Linked DNA regions of Homo sapiens. The protein of the gene in region 4 purifies or fractionates together with the protein of the main gene of each other region. This does not show direct contact. Each region holds a gene or a part of one and is shown on either strand. Other genes may lie near its edges. The genes, in order: GINS2, CSTA, SRRM1 and PLEKHG4B.

Region 1 (3,500 bases), on a different chromosome or scaffold from region 4:
TCTGTCTCAGGATAACAGCATTCCGTGCTGCCTAACCTCCATCTACAAGGAATCAGTTTCGAGGGCTGGCTCAAAGGTCGAGTTCTATTGCTCCTCATTTACAGAGTGTTGAGCAGATCTCCCTATTCCCCACCAGGAATCCAGGGCTCACAGCCTAGAGAAGGAAAACGCCAACTCCATGCCAGGTACTGGGCTCAGCACTTTACCTGGCATTTCTATCCTCACAAAAGCCCTGAAGGGAAGGGACTCTCCTGCTCTTCAGAGAAGACAAAAACAAGTTTCAAAAATCACAGAAGAAACTGCAAATTAGTATACAGTGAGCACACCTACACATAGCAAAATTCTGGCTAGAAGCTCAAAGCCAGCAAGGGATGAAGGAAGGCTTTCACAAAGTCGAGGCTCCCGTTGTGAAGTATTTTAAACTAACCTTTGAAGAAAAACTACACGATAAAAGCAGAAGCAAATATTGTTCGTCACTAGGCATTACAGGTTACGCTAGACATTCTCTCCATATGCTACAATTAATTCCTGATGAGTAAGTGGCAAACCACTGGTACAAAATTTATGTAGTGAGTTTTATTTATAAACCCAAACATTTAGATCTTGTGCTCTCAACAGCAGGTTAAAGGACAAAGGACCCCAACTCCTCGTCAGCTGAACTATAGAACAAACGTAAAATTAAGTCCCTTAACCGAATGAATTATAAAACAAGGTTTTTGATAAAAACTACATCCATAATATATTGAACTTCAAAAACAAAAAATGGATAGGCCCCCTCACCTAGCTAATGCCAAATTCTTACCTAGCCTGTTTATAGATCCTCTCCCTTCCAGCTACCATCCCCACCACCACTACAGTCTCTCTCAGGTCCCTCTGAGGCCACATGCCCCTCCCAGGGGCTGGCCACTGCAGCAGAACCTATGCCTCCATTCCTCTGCTCCCATGAATGTACTACACATCCTCAAATATCTCTGCTTGCCCGGCTACACCAGGTCCTTCACACTCTGCCTGAGCATATCAGTTCCTGCCTCACTGCCCTCTCCCCTACCGTCCACCTCCTACAAGTCTGCACTCCCAGCAAACCTCTGTGAGCCCTCTCTGGCACCACCTGGCCTTACTGCGCTCTGATGGACTGTCAAGAGCATTGGTCACACTGAAGATTCACTATAGGCTCCCAGGCCCACATCTCTCCCGCACCACACCAGGAAGCAGGCCTATGGGACAAACGCCACTGCCGAGTGGAATGCTTGGTGCATTGCTGCTTCTCAGCTTTTTATGAAATTCATGGGCTGACTGCAGCCTCATCTCAGCCTAAGCACAAGCCCATGTTGTGTCCCCAACTTTTCCTTTAAATTCAGCAGCGCCATTCAGTGGGCTCCCAGCCCTTCCTGCTGCTCTGCAGCATGCAGTAGTACTAGTGTCACAATTTTTTATTCTAGTTCTGCTCTTGAACCCAGTTAAAGGATACCCGGGGAGCTTCAGAAGCTTGAAATTGTACAAATGACATTCTAAGTATCTCCCAAGCAAAATTATCCACCCTTGTCTGCCTTCTTCACTAGTTTCACTTTCACTCAACAAACATGAGCCGCAGGCATCTCACTGGGGACATATGCATACGAGACCCAGCCCCTGCCCATTTAGAATGGGTACATGTGATGGCACAGCCAGGCAAACAAGAAAATTACAACTGGCAAATGCCATAGCAATGTGTAGAGCTGCCAAGAGTACATGTGTGCTGAACCCAGAAGAGACATGTTATGCTAACCAGCAGAGGTGAGCAGGGGCAGGGAAAGGACAGACTTACAGGGCAGAGAACAGTATATGCAAAGTCAGAATGCTTGAAGAAGTGACAGGGGCCAGTGTGAGCCTGAGCCCTCCAGAAGCAGAGAAAAGAGCTGTAGAGAGGGTGAAAGAGGGAGGAGGAGCACGCACTAGGCTGTACACTGCTTGAACACCACGCTCAGGTAGACGAGAGGGAAGACAGGATTTTAAGCAGGGAGTCACATGGCAGTTCTGCCTTTCAAAGGCCCCTCTGGCTGAGATGTGAAGAATGAATGGAAAGCTGAGCGGAGCCAGTATGGATGAAGGCAAACAAGCTACGGAGTTACTACAGCATGATTTTGCCAGGAAGTGGGCTTTCCTGTAACCCAAGGACAGAGGCAAATGTAAGCCCTCTGGCCTTTCCTGCGAAAGACACAAAAAAACTCAAATCCACCTACTCCAAGGAGAAACAGGAGTAAAGCTGTGCTAAATAAAACACATACATGGCAAAGAATGGCTACTGCCGATTCTGTGAGATGCTGGTGGCTCACACTGGGGTCCAATGTCGAGTGATGTGAGGCAGAACAAAAAGAGCCAAGGGCTTCACCGGGAAGTGGAGAAAAGGAAAAATGAGAGACAGAGAAAGGCAAAGAACAGACAGAAAGACACACAGAGACAGACAGAGTGCACCTGGCAGGTGTGTGTACACAGATGACCTCATGGTCACTGACCTGAGAAACAGGGCGGCCAGTGTTGCCACTTACTGAGGCAATAAGCAGGGAAGCGGAGAGGAAGGACGAGGGTTAGGGGAAGGGCATGGCGAGTCCAGTCTTGGGTGTGGCCTCTAAGAGGTGAGATCTACTTACTGATTTAACAGGAGCTTCGTAAGTTCCATGTAGTAAGGGCTGGGCATTGGGGTAAAAGTTTCTTCCTTTCGTTCATGATCCCTCATCTTCTCCAACTTTTCTGAAATTTAGAAGTTAATACATTTTACCATCATTATAACCAAGATATTTATTAAACCTTCCAAATTTACCAAGTGCCTATATTATCTGGCAAATACATTATCAACTAGCAAATACATGAAAAAACATTTTGGGATGACATTTGTATCATTATCTAGATGATTTGAGGCCTCCTCCTTGAAACTTTCTCTCCAAAAGAAAGGTAAATTTTTGTCGCTGCTTTAGCCTGCAGAAGATATTCCTAAAAACAATGTTAGAGTCAAAAGTTTGATGTTTGTTGTGTTTTGCTTTTGTTTTTTTTCTTTTTTAGGGAAACAGCAAAGTGATTTACCTTTACCGCCTTTTTTTTTTTTTTTTTTTTTTTTTTTGAGAGGGTCTCTCTCATGCCCAGACTGGAGTGCAGTGGCACCATCACAGCTCACTGCAGCTTCAACCTCCTGGGCTCAAGCAATCCTCCCGCCTCAGCCTCCCAAGGAGTAGCTGAGATCACAGGCACATGCCACCATTTATTTTTTGTAGAGACAAGGTCTCACTATGTTGCCCAGGCTGGTCTCAAACTCCTGTGCTCAAGTGATCGCCCTGCCTCAGCTTCTCGAAGTGCTGGGATTATAGGAGTGAGTCACCTGGTCAGTATTAGACCTTTGATGCAATAAGTGATCAAACTAGTCAGTGACTTAAATTTATTTATACTAAGCCTTGTTCAGAAGGGAGCAAGACAACTTACAAAACTAGAGCCACCCCAGCCTGGGCGCGATACAATATCCTAGGGGGGTT
Region 2 (3,592 bases), on a different chromosome or scaffold from region 4:
GCATTTGAATTAATCATAAATTATTAAATATGTTAATGTTGATGGAATGTTTCCTATCTTTGCACATAATCATTTTTAACTGGAAAACTTTCTTTTCCAGCCATGAAGAAAGCAGATTGAGAATGGAGGAAATGGTGCCATTGTTTTCTGAGGATACAGCAGGGTCCTCTTTCACATGTGTCTCCCCGGGACCTGGTCGTTACTAGGAGCTCACATTTGGCAGAACAGGGCTGATCTGTGTACATAGCTCTGTACTGAAACTTTCTTATGCTGAGCTGACTAGCTCCACTTACTTCACTTACTTTTTTTTTTTTTTTTGCTGAAAAAATCTTTTAAAATGTTTATATTTTAATAGAAATATTTGTTAAAGAGAAATAAGCCACACTGTGCCCTGGTCAAATAGTGAAGTAAAGATTAAGTAAATATACTTGAATATTTGTTTTTATTTTTAAAATCAGCATTATCATCTTCTTAATATATAAGGACAAACATGGCTCTCAAATATTCATGGTTGACTTGTTCAACTGGTTTCCTCTTGATAACTTCAATTAGAACTCGATCAATGCATTGTGTAATTTTTTGACAGAGCTATAAAATTAACTTTTAAACTATTTTAAATACTCCACTCTTTTAAACTATGCCTAGAGTGCCACAAGTTAAATCTAATTTGAGTTACAAAATAGTATTTACATTATATTAATTGAAGGGCAAAAAAGGTTTAAATTATTTTCCCAGCTAATGATTTGAGTCGTTACTTTAATTTATTTAATTTAGACATAGAGAATCATACAGCTTTGAGGTAGAATCAGCTTCAAGATACCATGTGGTCCAGCCCCACACCTTCAGGCAGATGAGACGTGATCCTCCCTCCTTACCTAAGCAGCAGCACAGCCACAAATCCAGCATGCCCTGAACTGTTATGAAATCTTTTTCTATACAATTTCCAGAAATCAAGAATCAATGTAATAAAACTTTCTGAATTCACAAGAAAAAAAATGGTGTCACATCATCTACCAAATTTGAGAGTCCACCACTTGGAAGGAATCATGCTGGGCATCTTAATTTAGGACAACCGTAAGGAAGGAATTATGTGGTAGGGAAATCAGGGAATATTTTACATAAAATGAGAAATACATCTTTTGGCGCTAAAGTAGGTGCTGAACTCTAACCTTAATGTAGTAATTTGTTCCAGCAACAACTTGAGTTTTATACTGCACAGCTTCCAATTTTCCGTAAGTCTCATTTGTTTTTTCTTCAAGCTGTGGTTTAACCTAAAGAAAAGAAAAGAGGAAACAAATAATCAAAGCTATATTAGACTCCATGTATGCAATGTACCCATCTGGGAACCTCATCCTCCTAAAAGTCTTCAAAGATGGTAATGAAATCTATGAACTATTTTTATTATTTCAATAGAAAACACCTGTTTTAATACAATTACATAGGTTAAAAAGTCAAATTTTGTTGCTTTAGGCTGAATTCACATCAACTCAGTGTGGTAATGCAATATAGGAGCGTTTTGACTGCTAAAACTCTAAGAGTTATATGTATCTTTGATTAATAAAAATCAGTGGAGCAATAATTACTACTTGATTAAAACATTATTTTAAAATGATTTCAGACTTAAAAGTTGTAAAATTAGTATAATGAATTCTCTTATATCATTTACAGTTCCCTTAATTTTGCCGTTTTACATAACATAGTATAATCACCAAAATGAGGAAATTAACATGGTATAATACTATTAAGTAGTCTCTAAACCTTATCAGAATTTTGCCAGTTTTCCTGAAAATGTCTCTTTTCTGCTCCAGGATCTCATGCAGGATCCTACATTGCATTTAGTTGTCATTTCTCCTCAGTCTCCTACAATCTGGGTTCATTCCTTTTTGTTCATGGCCTTGATGTTTTTGAAGAATACTGGCCTGTTAAATGGTAGAATGTCTCTCAATTTAGGTTTGTGTGATCTCCTCTTATGTTAGTATTATACATGTTTGTAAGGATAGCACAAACGTGATGTTGTGCTTAAGTGCATCCTATCAGGAGCTACGTTTCATTACTGGTGATGTTAATTTTGATCACTTAGGATGTCTGCCAGGTTTCTCCACGGTAAAGTTACCATTTTTTTCCCCTTTGTAATTAGTAAGTGTCTTGTGAGGAGTCTTGTTTCTCGCCATACTTTCATACATGAATTTTAGCATCCATTGATGGTTCTTGCCTACAACAATGATTAATTGTGGTGTTGGCCAAATGGTAATTAAAAAATCATTTCTTGTGCATTTATTATCTGGAATTCTGCCATAAGGAAGAGCTGTTCCCTCTCTCCTCTTTATGTAGTCAATTACTTATTTTATATTAATATGACTCATGGATATTTCTTTTACTCTGTGGATTACAATTCATTACTCTATTTTGTTACTCAAATGCCCTAGATTTGGCCGTTGGGAGCTCCTTCACCTGATGCCTGTGTTCTTTCAACATGCCTCCATCATTTTATAAGCACTTCCTTACTTTCTGACTCTACAAAAGTAGAGTCAGATGTTCCAGGTTTATCTTGAAGTTTCCTTGCCTCCTCACTGGAATCAACTATTTCTCCAAGGAGTCCCTGCTCCTTTTATTGGAGAACGGTATTTAAGACCCAAGATTTGGGTGCTGTGTCTCTTGTTACTAAATGTCATTGCTTCTAGGCCCACTCAGTGGAAAGGGCTACAAAATAATATGTGTACTCACACATGCACACATCTTTACGCATTTGTGTATGTGTGTGCATATATACACACATTTATCTGTGTGTCATTATATATATACATTATATATGTGTGTGTACGTGTGTGTGTGTGTGTGTGTGTGTGTGTGTGTGTGTGTATTCCTCTGATTAAAATCAAATACCACGGCCGGGTGTGGTGGCTCATGCCTGTAATCCCAGCACTTTGGGAGGCAGAGGCGGGTGGATCACTTGAGGTCAGGAGTTTGAGACCAGTGTGACCAACATGATGAAACCCCGTCTCTACTAAAAATACAAAAATTAGCTGGGCGCAATGGTGGGTGTCTGTAATTCCAGCTACTCAGGAGGCTGAGGCAGGAGAATTGCTTGAACCTGGGAGGCGGAGGTTGCAGTGAGCCGAGATCACACCATTGCACTCCAGCCTGGGCAACAAGAGTGAAACTCTGCCTCAAAATACATAAATAAATAAATAAATAAATAAATAATAAAATAAATCAAATACCACAGGACTCATTTAGCTTTTCCCTTTTCCTTATTATAACTCCTTTCTCAAACACTGAGGAAGAATCCTGGTTCTTATTATTTGCAATGTATTCGCCTATTTTCTCAGTTCTAGCATATACATAAAATAATTTCAGAATTGTTGACCTATACCCCTGTGGAAAACAATATACTAACTAGAGTGCAGTATTTGGGTATAATTCTTATAAAGACCCTGTGATTGCATGGGCTTACCTGGATAATCCAGGATAACCTCTCCATCTCCAGAGCCTTAACTTAATCACACCTGCAAAGTCTCTTTTGCTGTGTAAAGGAACCTAGTCACAGGTTCCAGGGATTAGGACATGGACATCTTTGGAGGGCCATCATTCT
Region 3 (3,592 bases), on a different chromosome or scaffold from region 4:
CTTTCTTCACCTACACTACAGATACGCATTAAGACTGGTATTATCGCCACTCATTTACAAATAAATATTCACTGAAAGTTAATCTCTAAGACCTGAACTAAAGAGATGTTTTCAAGCTTACTTCAAAAAAATAAAAATAAAAATAAAAAATAAAATAAAAAAGAAAATCACTTTCACATTGACCTTATTCTTTCTGGGAGTTCATCTGTATTGCCCATATTAAGAGTTTATGCTGGCTGGGCACGGTGGCTCACGTCTATAATCCCGCCAAGGGCGGGCAGATCACTTGAGGTCAGGAGTTCGAGACAAGTCTGGCCAACATGGCAAAATCCCGTCTGTACTAAAAATACAAAAATGAGTTGGATGTGGTGGTGTGCGCCTGTAATCCCAGCTACTCAGGAGACTGAGGCATGAGAATCGCTTGAACTCAGGAGGTGAAAGCTGCAGTGAGCAGAGACCACACCACTGCACTCTAGCCTGGGTGACAGACTGAAACTGTGTCTCAAAAAAACAACAAACCAAAAATCCTTATGCTTACCTTTCAGTGTTAAATTCAAATTTCTTTTAAGCTACATGCACTCACATATTAAGAATTTGTAAAAATCTAGCAAATCACTAGACTGGGAAAATGACATTCTAAACTCAATGTTTGGTTGGAGGGAGGAGCAGTGAACCAAAACTGAATGTTTAAATACAGTACAGCAAAGCAAAACTACATGAAGATCCTAGCTGAGTCATATACTACCTAAGGTGTCTCGGCAGCCTGGCCAATACTCTCAAATCGACATTACAGAAAAGAAAAGGTTATTACCTGTCTTTGTTTTATTTCTTCTTTCTTCAGTTCTAGGAAAGCAGAAGGGATTCCCGCGATGTTTTCTTGTGCACTTAGCAGCAGGGGCCACAGTTCTCCCATAAATTCTCGAGCATTTTTTCCATTCAAAAATCCAGTCAGGTTGATTTGCATCATTTTGGAGTCTGGATTCTGCAAAAAGACACGACAGGAAGAAAAACAGGTTACTTCAAAACCAACCAACCAACAAATCAACCAACCTAAAACTCATTTAAATTAGTATTTTTTAAGTCTACCATAGGGGCTTAGACATATATATAGTCCTTACTATTTTACAAATAGTCTTCCCTAGTAGCTTCTCAGCAATATAATCTCTAACAGATTACCAAATTCTCTCTCACTCTACCAAAAGCATCAGAGCAGCCTGTTAATCCTTTGTGGATTTCGTAAGTATTTTTAGACTCTGTGGCTGTTAGTGGGCCTTACATTTATTAACTTTAAAAACCATCATGAAACATCCACAAATTCTAGTATTTACTAACAAGAAAAGTATTTGCTTGCCTGGAAATTTTCCCCCAATGAGAAACGGAAAAAGTACATAAACTGCTCCCTAACACTACAGATAGCTTTGCATAAAATATCTATTGTCCAGTTATGAAAACTAACAAGTTATGCATGCAGTCTGTAACTTCTGAGGGCTAAGCTAAAGGCCTGAGTTTTATATAAGGAAAATCTATTATAACAATGCCTCAAATTCTCAACTGTCCACAAAGTGCTAAGAGGTCAAGATTTCTCAAAAATAATTGGGTTTTTAAATGCTAAATCCGTTGGTCAAGCAACAAGGTCTGTATAACAAGCACAGCTCAATAGCACAAAGCAAGTACAGATTCCAGGTGTCTTCAGTTTCTTCTTGGAACCTTGGGGGTTTGGAATCGCCAAGTCCCCTGTAGAGAAAGATGTTCCCTTGGCTTGCTTCCGACTCCCTACTGCAACTCAACCACCTTGAGTTTAATGTTATATCATTTATCTAAATTGCAAAAGACGAACAAGCAATAATGAGTACACAACCACAAAAAAAGAATTGTCTTAAAAAGTTCTAAACTTTAATCTCATGCTCACTACAAGGGGAATACTACCAGATACTTAGGTTTTTAAAATGCACTAAAATACACATCAGTAAAGCATTTCTCCAATAAAATCTATCTTCAATCATCATTTAAAAAACTTTCTCCCCTGTTCCTGGTTTTCTAAGATGCATATACTTTATAGAAAGTGCATTCTTAAAATTAGTCTTTAAAAATATTCAAAACAAAATACAAACACCAAATTATTTTAAAACTAGAAATACCTTATCAGTTGAAATGCCAACTGTTCTGTCAAAACATAGGGTGAACTCTTTGGGGGAAATGATTAATGTAAAAGTAAATTCACATTGGTATATATGCAAAAAGGTCATATGGTACATATCTTAACTGTCCTTTGGGTTGCTGTGGCAAAACAGAAACTGTCTTACAATAAGAATGTTCTTAAACATCAGTTATATCATCATATTATCTCATGTATAAAGGAACAATTATATGCTGCCAATTTGTCTGAAGTTTAAGTATAAACAAAAATCCTGTCTCTAAAATGTAACTGATGACTAGCTGACATGCAGCTACAAAGACCTTAGTTCCTTTAAAAACAATATCCAATCAAATCAGAATTGCCCCTCATGCTTCACATAAATGTCCATCTCATAATAGTATTTTAAAAGAGCAGTGTACAGCTTTACCCAATTGCTCTTTCCTGTTTGTGTTTTTTGTTGTTGTTGTTGATGTTTGGCCACTTTACACAACTCACCTCCAAACACACACTGCATCATCAAGGGAGTTGGGTCAGAGCGACATTGGGACACTCACTCTGCTGTGACCTAATAAGGTGATGGTGCTATACTTCAGACGCAAGGAATAACTTCCATTTTGGTTCAGGCCTTTTAAATCATAAATCACATTATCATTAGAAAATTGCTGTCAAAGTAACTTAACATGTAACAGCAAAATTACAAACAATAAGTTTGATTTTTCACCTGTGTAGCTTTCAAAACTATGCACCTTCACTAAACTTCCAGCCTTAATAGTTGTTTACAAAGTGAATTCTTTTCACAACAAACATTGTAAAATAACCCTTCTATATTTGCACTCCATAGAAAAAATTCAGTTTCCAAAGATTCACAAATTATATCACATATTCAGAAACAAGAGCCATTTGTATATTAGTACCTTCACTTCCAGCTGGTTGAATATAAACTCAATCACAACATCATCTTCAAACCCAAGGATTTCCGTTACTCTTTTTGTTATCCAAGGCTTTATAACCTCCAAATTTACTTTGCTCATGTCCACCTGATGAAACATAGAAACAATTAAGTACAACTTCACAATCCTAAAAAAAAATGCTCAAGTTAGAGTTCTGTCTACCAAAGTTCCTTTTAGCTTAGTTTTTTTGTTTGGCATAGTAGAATCTGCTAATTTTTTTTTTTTTTTTTTGAGACAGAGTCTTGCACTCTTGCCCAGGCTGGAGTGCAGTGGTGCTCAGCTCACTGCAAGCTCCGCCTCCCAGGTTCGTGCCATTCTCCTGCCTCAGCCTCCCAATTAGCTGGGATTACAGGCACCCGCCACCACGCCCGGCTAATTTTTTGTATTTTTAGTAGAGACAGGGTTTCACCGTGTTAGCCAGGATGGTCTCAATCTCCTGACATTGTGATTTGCCCGCCTCGGCCTCCCAAAGTGCTGGGATTACAGGCGTGAGCCACCTCGCCCA
Region 4 (3,592 bases):
CTCGGACGGCCCACAGTGCTGCCTGCTGCTGCCTCTCATTCTCGAGAGCAGGCACCAAAGGACCGAGGCATTTCTCTAGTTCTTTTCCAAACTATGATTTGATCTACACAGGGGAAGAACATTTTATATTTAAACATGCGAAGAAGTCACACTCTAGGATTTAGCAGGACCGAGGGAGGGATGCGTCTTGGTCATGTCCTGAGTACACGCTGCACAGGGCTGACAGCCTGGCTGCGTAACCACCCGTGAATGAACACGACTGATGAGAGGTGGCACGGGCCTCTGAGGCTCAAGCTCCAAACTATTTTCATTGTTTGGAAAAGGACATTAAAATCATTGAACAATAGATCCAGGACTTTCCATTTTGAAACTGGTTAATATGGTAAGCATATTCCAGAAATATTCTTCAGGCCAGTGGCTGCTTGGCCCCTTGAGGCTGCCTGGGAAAGATGGGGGAGCCCCTGGCTGAGCCCTGCTGGACGGAGCGCCTGTGGCTACGCGCCCTGGTGACAAGACCAAGGTTCTTATTTTGGAGGCATTTACTGCTGGATTCAGTGGAAATGTCAGAGGTAAGCCCTTCATGTTGTCGTTAAACAGCAACACCAGGGGCGACTAGGGGTCAGATGCCCAGAGATGAGAGGCCTGTTGTGAAGAAGAGAACAGCTGCCTGGATCCATGACCATCAGAAGGTACCGAATGACCCCAGACATGCAGCAGAGGAGAGACAGACCAGCACATACGCTGTCTGTAAACAGAGCCAGAGTCAAGAAGAAAATCACAGCATCTTGATTCTTAGGAGCACGGGCAGAGTCTTGCAACTGCCAGGCAAGGGGCAGGTGCGGCTTCGGCAGAGCAGAGTGGGGGTGGCGCAGAGCTGGAGCCTGGCCTCCAACTTTGTGGAAAAATCGGCTGTCATTGGTTTCAAGATTTAAATACAAAAATTCAAGTCATAAAGGTTCTATGATGAAATACACTAATAATTCTATAACTTAAGGTAGAAAGGGCTGTTTAAAAGATAAGCAAAGCTAGAGGGCAAATGACAAACTAGGAAAACAAGCAGAACATGAAGGATCCATATAACATAGACAGAAGTGATGATCAACCCTAGAAAAACTGTCTAAAGCATGAACAAGTAATTCACTACAGAAATAAAAATAATAAACGTGTGAAGAGAATGTCCAGCTGTCGCATAGAAAATCTGAGGGCACACTGTTTAGGGGCTCCATTTCCCCACGGGGCAGCCGGCGGGAGGCAGGTGCGGCTGGAGTGCCACGGCTTATGCGTGGAAACCTCCAAAAACAAATGGTCTGACCGCAGCCATCCGAGCCTAGGAATGTATCCAGAGTCAACACCCACAGGCTGTGAAGGAAGCAGAGACACAGAGATGTTCAACATGGGGAGTTTCTAACAGCAGAGAGGGGAGGAGCCCAGGGCCTTCAGTGTGGGAGCCGTGTGAACATGGCTCGGGGACTGAGCTTGCAGCGCATGCCCACACACAGGGTGCCGAGGCCGCCACATGCGGCATCCCGTGTGTAAAAATCTATTTGTTTCTAATTTTCCCACAGTGTGCATGCACTTTTTAGGTTAAATATATAGAGACAGACGTGCACCTATACATAGCAGGATCGCCTGTCCGGTCACAACGTGGAGTTTCTGGGTGAAGACTGCAGAGTGAGACGTGTCCTCTTGAGACACCACTAAAGCCCTGCAAGCATCTTCCAAGGCGTAACACTCAGCACGGTGGGCAGAGAGCAGCCAGGGCACAAACCTGGAGGCCGGGAAGGAAGCGGGAGTGGCAGGGCCTGAGGAGAGCAGAGGCCAAGTCCCGAGACTCCACAGGACAGGGTGAGGGAGTGTCGGAGGGAAGGAGCTGGGCACCCTGCTCCACAGGGCCCAGGGTCTGTTCCCTGGCAGGTGAACACTGAGCTACGGCCAGGCTCTCCTTTCAGGCCGGGATTAGAGGAAAAGAATCAGACCGCCAGGGAGAAAATGCTAAAGATGCGTGGGCCACAGGCTTCCTAGCCAGGGGTCGCCAGGAAAGCCTCTGGCGCCAGAACAAACCCACAGAAGCCACAGACTGTGCAGACTCATCATGATTAGTATGGAGAGGGGACTGTTCAGAAAATAAGCCCATGGAGTTAAAAAGCAAGAGCAGAAACAAAAAACTCAATAATAGAGTTAGAGGGTAAAGCTGAGAAAAATCTACCTTACAAGGACAGCACACAGCCAGGGGTGGGGAAAATTAAGGCAACAGGACAGAAAACTCCAGAACCAGATGGAAGTGTGGAGCTGTGGGAAATGCGAGCGCCACGAAGGATGTCACAGAATTCCCAGAACAGAGGGGCGCAGTGCAGACACAAAGAGCACACCTGCCCTCGGTGCACCTGGGCGACCCTCAGGCACACCTGCCCTCAGTGCACCTGGGCGACCCTCAGGCACACCTGCCCTCAGTGCACCTGGGCGACCCTCAGGCACACCTGGGCCACCCTCAGGCACACCTGCTCTCAGTGCACCTGGGTGACCCTCGGGCACACCTGCCCTCAGCGCACCTGGGCAACCCTCAGATTCCAGAGCCCCGAGGACGACAGGAAAGTCTGTGGCTTCCACCGAGAAGCAGGGCACAGGCAGAAGGCTGGGAGTGGGATGGAAGCTAAGCACAGGCGCAGGGCCTTCCAGCTGGCGAAGGGAAACTAAAGTGACTGCTGGCCATGAAGGTGGAGTAGAGATGCTTTTAGATACCACGGCCTCAAAAATGCTCACCCCAAGATCCCTTTCTCTGGGAAGTCCTGGAAGTTATTCTGCATAAAACGCCAAAGTAAATGAAAAAAGAGGAAGACTTGGATACAGGAAATAGGAGACCACAGGATGGGGCAGAGTGGGGAGGGAGATGGAGGAGACCCCAGGAAGAGCAGAGGGAGGAGGGGAGATGGGGGAGACACCCCAGGAAGGAGTAGAACGAGGAAGGGAAGACGAAGGAGACCCCCCAGGACAGGCAGAGGGAGGAAGGGGAGATGGGGGAGATCCCCCAGGATGGGCAGAGGGAGGAGGGGAGATGGGGGAGACCCCCCCAAGGACGGAGTAGAACGAGGAGGGGAAGATGAAGGAGACTCCCAGGACGGGCAGAGGGAGGAGGGGGAGATGGGGGAGACCCCCTGGGATGGGCAGAGGGAGGAGGGGAGATAGGGGAGACCCCCAGAATAGGCAGTGGGAGGAGAGATGGGGGAGACTCCCAGGACGGGCAGAGGGAGGAGAGGAGAAGGAGGAGACCCCCAGGATGGGCAGAGAGAGGAGAGGAGATGGAGGAGACCCCCAGGATGGGCAGAGGGAGGACAGGAGATGGAGGAGACCCCCAGGATGGGCAGAGGGAGGAGAGGAGATGGAGGAGACCCCCAGGATGGGCAGAGGGAGGAGAGGAGATGGAGGAGACCCCCAGGATGGGCAGGGGGAGGAGGGGAAGATGGGGGAGACCCCCAGGATGGGCAGGGGGAGGAGGGGAGATGGAGCCAGGATAGAGCAGAGGGAGGAGGGGAGATGGAGGAGACCCCCAGGACAGAGGGCACAGACTGGAGACAGCCCGGACTGGCTGGTGGCT

What was found.
Region 1: the proteins of PLEKHG4B (region 4) and GINS2 purify together in Homo sapiens (affinity purification with mass spectrometry; one large-scale study listed by BioGRID and IntAct). This does not show direct contact.
Region 2: the proteins of PLEKHG4B (region 4) and CSTA purify together in Homo sapiens (affinity purification with mass spectrometry; one large-scale study listed by BioGRID and IntAct). This does not show direct contact.
Region 3: the proteins of PLEKHG4B (region 4) and SRRM1 purify together in Homo sapiens (affinity purification with mass spectrometry; one large-scale study listed by BioGRID and IntAct). This does not show direct contact.

Annotation. Positions count from the first base shown.
Region 1 is NC_000016.10:85,678,955-85,682,454, forward strand, and holds part of GINS2 (DNA replication complex GINS protein PSF2), read right to left. Parts: intron 2,728-3,500; coding exon 2,628-2,727; intron 1-2,627. UniProt on the Homo sapiens protein: Required for correct functioning of the GINS complex, a complex that plays an essential role in the initiation of DNA replication, and progression of DNA replication forks.
Region 2 is NC_000003.12:122,335,226-122,338,817, reverse strand, and holds part of CSTA (cystatin-A), read right to left. Parts: intron 1,272-3,592; coding exon 1,170-1,271; intron 1-1,169. UniProt on the Homo sapiens protein: This is an intracellular thiol proteinase inhibitor. Has an important role in desmosome-mediated cell-cell adhesion in the lower levels of the epidermis.
Region 3 is NC_000001.11:24,646,249-24,649,840, reverse strand, and holds part of SRRM1 (serine/arginine repetitive matrix protein 1), read right to left. Parts: intron 3,175-3,592; coding exon 3,052-3,174; exon of another isoform or gene 983-3,051; coding exon 812-982; intron 1-811. UniProt on the Homo sapiens protein: Part of pre- and post-splicing multiprotein mRNP complexes. As a component of the minor spliceosome, involved in the splicing of U12-type introns in pre-mRNAs. Involved in numerous pre-mRNA processing events.
Region 4 is NC_000005.10:158,094-161,685, reverse strand, and holds part of PLEKHG4B (pleckstrin homology domain-containing family G member 4B), read right to left. Parts: intron 1-3,592. UniProt on the Homo sapiens protein: Guanine nucleotide exchange factor (GEF) which specifically activates small GTPase CDC42 by exchanging bound GDP for free GTP.